Linked DNA regions of Homo sapiens: region 2 is linked to region 1. The links come from fine-mapping of genetic effects on gene expression. A gene starts in region 1. The other region holds a variant in brackets. All regions are shown on one strand. Distances are between the middles of the regions. Region 1 holds the start of GJA3 (gap junction protein alpha 3). Region 2 holds the start of LOC105370101 (a long non-coding RNA gene).

Region 1 (2,500 bases):
GGGCAAGCCAACTGCTAATCCGAGTAGATCTAAACGCTAACGAAGGCAGCCGACGGAAGCTGCTCCATGAAGACACGAAAACTATCAGACTTGCATTTTGCCACATTCCTGGAATAAACTTATTACTCATAAAGGTGATTTTGAAGCCATTTCAGCTTGTGGAATGATCACCGAAATGCAGTCCACCGATATTTGTTAATATCCCAGGCTGGTCAAACCCCACTCCAGACCTTGGGGGACGGGGAGGGGACCCGCGGCCTCTCTAGGCTGTGCCCAGACAGCAGACAAGGACGCGATGCCGCCCTCGGTCCGCGGCCTTCCGCGGTAGGCGTCCCTCTCAAGCGTGGTAAAACCACCCCGAAGGGAACAGAAAACGTTAAAATCTTCGTTGGGCGCCAGCAGGCAGGTTAGGCCTCGCCCTGGCATCTCGTCTCCAGGACCAGATGGAGCGAGTGACCCGCGGGGACACCTTCCCGGTCACCTCGAGCGCAATAAAACAAGTTCTTTTTTTAAAAATAAGCATCCGTGTGCCTGCCGGCTAAATTAAGTGTGTCTGAAGAGAAGCAGGATGGCGGCCGCTATTTATAACCTCCCGCCCCGCCCGGGCGCCACTCCTCGACAGCACCCACGCTGTGCCCGGCGGCGCTTCCGCGGGGACTTCCTGCTCGGTGGTCCCCGCCCCGCCCCGCGCCAGCCGTCCGGAACCCGCGTCCCCAGGCGGCTGCAGGCGGGCGAGACCTAGGTGCCCGACGCCCACGCGCCTCCGACCGTGGGAGCGCCCGGAGAGCAGCTACCTCGCCGGGCCTGCGAAGCCCAGGACAGGCGCGAGCGGGGCGCGGGCTGGCGCATCTGCGTGCGGTGGGCGCCCCGCAAGCGGGTCGGGCCCGCCCCAACAGCCCTCGGCTCTCCTCTCACGTCCCGCGCGGGCATGCCCCGGAGTGCGTAGGCGGCAGGGAAGAGCCCCCGCGTCCACATCCCCAGGGCCCGCGCAGGTGCGGGATGGGGATGCAGGCGCTAGGCATGGACGTGCGCGCGGGGTAGGGTGTGGAATGCGGACGCGGGCGAGTGCTGTGGCTGCGCGTACAGGGTAGGGATGCGGGGGCGGTAGGTGTGCGTGCTGGGAAGCGCGCGGGGCGGGGCTGTTCGGAGGCGGCGGGGGCGTGGCGCGGCGTCCTGAGCTGCAGCTTGGGGGCGTCGGGCGCAGCGCACACTGGGGCTGCAGGGATGGCGATCAGGGCGGGGAGGTCGGGCCCTGGCGCGGGGCGCACGCGTGAAGCAGCACCGCACGTGTGAAAGGAATTCTTTTCAGAGCGGCCGGGAGCCCTGCTCCGGAGGAACGCACCCGGGTCGCCGCCGCGGCAGAGCGGGGTAAGGCGGGCCGGGCGCCCCGGAGGCCAGGCACAGGGGCCGAGGGCAGCGCGGGGCGGGGACGGGCGGGTCGGCGGCGCAGCGGAGCTGCCGGGCGAGCCCAGCGGGCTGAGACTGCCGAGCTGGGAAGCCGAGCCCCGGCACGTGTGCGGCTCCCAGCCCCCTAGGATTCTTTCAGGATTCTTCAAAAAGTTGTGGGGAGCTCGGGAAATTTGTGAGAAACTTTTGGAATAATTGATCTTCCTCCTTTGCTCCTGGAGGTCTGGAGAGCAGCGCCTCGTTTGGCTTCCCTTGATGGACAGTCCAAGGCCGAGTTTAAGTTGTTTTCCTGGGGTTGTTTTCCCCCTCGGGTGGAGGAAGCCGGGCTGTCCCGGACCGTCAGGCTGTAGGGCTCCTAGCGATGCTGAAATGCTTGAAAACTCTAAGCAGATGTCACCGCGCCAGCTAACGGCGCGCACCCAGCCGTCCACGGGCATTCAGCATCGCCGTGCTCCTAAAAGTCCTGTTGGGATTGTTTAGAAACAAGGTTGGCTCGCCTACATTTTTTTCAGAAACTTTTTAAAACTTTTTATTTTTAAGAAACACTGTAGCTATTAATGCCACGACCAGATTTCTCGACCTGTATGTTTGTTATGATGTGTTCAACTATAAGGAATTTGCAGAGGAGTGGAAAAGCACTGTCCGAGCCCCTTCCCGTAGGAGACTTGAGAAAACAAACGGCAGTGACGCGGCTGCATTTGCTTTGTTGCCGACTCCACACTAGTGAGCAAAATTCATCCTACCATGTAGAGTTCTCGGTTCGTGAATATGTGACTGCAACTTTAGAACTCCAGTTTTTATTTTATCAAGATGTCTCCAAAACATGCCATTTAAAAATGATTCTATACAAACAGCTGACAAGCGAATTATGGGTCTCATCACCCAGGAATTAAAAACCATGGTGATTTATGATGTGCGCATCACTTCACTGGCGGTCCATCCATGTGCAAGACAAACATTAAAAGATTAAAGAGGAAAAAAGAGGGATTTATTTTCCGAATATCAGTGTGTTCAAAGTAAACATCAGCTAGTTTGGCACAGATTCCACCTGCTCAGCAGTTTGGTTCATATCGAGATAAGCATCTCATAAGGG
Region 2 (2,500 bases), 40 kb after region 1:
CAACCCAAACAACCCAATTTTAAAATGGGCAAAGGACATGAATAAACAGTTCTCCAAAGAATACATACAAATTGCTAATAAGCACCAAAGATGCTGAATGTCAGTAATCACTGGGGAAAGGGCAAATCGAAACCACAATAAGATACCACCTTGAGCCCATTAGGATGATAGGGTACATTTAGAGAAATATATTTGGTCTTTGTCCCTGGTTCCTAGCACAGAGCCGCTAAAGCCCTTAGAATTTCCTGAGTGATAGTAGTGTCTTTTGTTATTCATAATGAAGCACCTATTGATCACATCTGAGTTTATGCTACTGAGGTGACTTAGGGTGAACCCTTAGATAGCTTCAGGATGGGGTTGGTCACCGGAAAGACCAGGTAAGTAGGAGGTTGGATCCTTCAGCCTCACCCCTAGACCTGTGAGAAGGGGAGGGGACTAGAAATCAAGCTCTAAAAAAGCTCTTGAACAAGCAGGTTGGAAGAGTTTCCAAGTTGTGGGAATGTGGTGCACCTGCAGCCCCCACCTCATACCTTGCCCTGCGCGTCTCTTCCCTCCAGCTGTTCTATGTACTTGAGCTCAGTCAATGAACACAAATTCCCTACAGTATTGGTCTCTGACACCAAAGAACAACATTTTGACAAATTGAGTTTTAAAGATTTAATTGACTCTTATTAGCAATGTATGAAACAGGCAGCCTCCAGACTACAAAACAGAAGGCACTCGGCTGGGTGTTGCAGAACAATCGGCTTTGGTAAGGCAGCTCAAGCAGGAATGAGGAAATCGTGTGGTGAGAAAAGTGCATTGGTTATCATTGGGTGACTTTCTGAGGCGGAGAATAGGGTCTGGAGGCAGGGAACCTAAGGCCGATTTCACGCTGACTTCCTAGAACTAAATCAAAAGGAAAACCCCAACTTTTCACACCTAAGTAACAAAAAAACCGGAGGTAGCCGGGCATGGTGGCTCACGCCTGTAATCCCAGCACTTTGGGAGGTCGAGGTGGGCGGATCACCTGAGGTCAGGAGTTTCAGCCCAGCCTGGCCAACGTGGTGAAACCCCGTCTCCACTAAAAATACAAAAATTAGTCTGGCGTGTTGGCGGGCGCCTGTAACCCCAGCTACTCGGGAGACTGAGGCAGGAGAATCGCTTGAACCCGGGCGGCGTAGGTTGCAGTGAGCGGAGATCGCGCCGTTGCACTGTAGCCTGAGCGACAAGAGTGAAACTCCGTCTCAAAAAAGAAAAAACAAACAAAAAACCGGAGGCTACTCCCTTTGCAAACCCCCACCCTTTTCTGCCTGGCAGATGGAAAATTGAAAG[T/C]GTCTCTGAGGGCAGCCAATCAGACGTTTACATAGGATTGTAACTTTGTAACTTCACTTCAGCCTCTGATTGGTCGCTTCCCACAACCAATCAGCTTGATTGTGGGCCAAGTCTTCCTTTGCATAGAACTGTAACTTTGTAACTTCACTTTGCAAACAGAGGCTTGCATCGGGTGTAACCTTTGTAACTTCACCTCAGCCTCTGGTTGCAGGTCACTACTTCATTTACATAGAGTGTACACCAGGTAACCAATGGGAAACCTCTAGAAGGTATTTAAACCCCAGAAAATTCTGTAAAAAGAGCCCCTATGCTCCAGCGGCTCCCACCCTGTGGAGCGTACTTTCATTTTCGATAAATCTCTCCTTTTGTTGCTTCCTTCTTTCCTTGCTTTGTTTGTGCGTTTTGTTCAATTCTTTGCTCAAAACGCCAACAACCTGGACCCCTCCACATTTCCTTGTATGAGTTTAAGCGGAGGAAACCTCTCTTATGCAGGCTCAAGTGGACTGGCCCCCTTTTGACTGGTTGCTGGTAGTCTCCTATTTTTTCAGGAAAACTGGCCCTGGTGGGGGATTTTCCTGTTTTGTTTAAGTTTCAGTTTGATTACGTGGCACTTAGCACAAGTGATTCCATTTTGGTCTGGCCTACTGGGGCCTAGTGCAGGAGCTCAGCCCAATTCAATGGCCTCCCATAAATCTTATTTAACACTTAGCACCACTGTGCACATGTGGAAGGTAAAACTCAGAGACGCTAAGTATCTGAGTGTGTCACAGAGCTAGTAAAAGGCAGAGCTGGGATCAGATACATTGATTCATTCACTCAAAAACCTTTTTTTATCGAGTGCATACTATGTATCAGCCTCTGGGTACTGAGCATGGGAGCAGAATCAGACACCCCGAACTGACAGGGCTCACAGACGAGAAGGGGAGACAGTTCTCAATCATAGAAATCACTTGTTCTCACAAACGGTGACACGTGCTATGAAGAAAAAGGCCTGAGAACTAGGAGGGCATCTAGAGGCGCCCTTTCTGGTCTAGGCGTCCTACAGGCAGCTGGAGGAAGACGTCTGAGCTGACATCAGATTCATGGGTAGGAGTCTACCAGGCCAGGGGGGTGAGTGCCTTCCAGTGCACAGAAAAGCTGTCCGGTTCCCGAAAGTTTCTTTTTCTTTCTCTCTCTGTGTGTGTGT

What was found.
Region 2: its variant is fine-mapped to the expression of GJA3 in blood mononuclear cells (TOPMed, PIP 0.98).

The regions. Positions count from the first base shown.
Region 1 is chr13:20,159,758-20,162,257 of GRCh38, reverse strand. GJA3 (gap junction protein alpha 3) reads left to right here and starts at 1,206. Exons shown (of 2, transcript NM_021954.4): 1 at 1,206-1,368. RefSeq lists silencers at 556-915, 1,146-1,225, 1,386-1,475.
Region 2 is chr13:20,119,605-20,122,104 of GRCh38, reverse strand. LOC105370101 (a long non-coding RNA gene) reads left to right here and starts at 2,316. Exons shown (of 3, transcript XR_941719.3): 1 at 2,316-2,400. The variant T/C (reference allele first, on the strand shown) is at 1,315.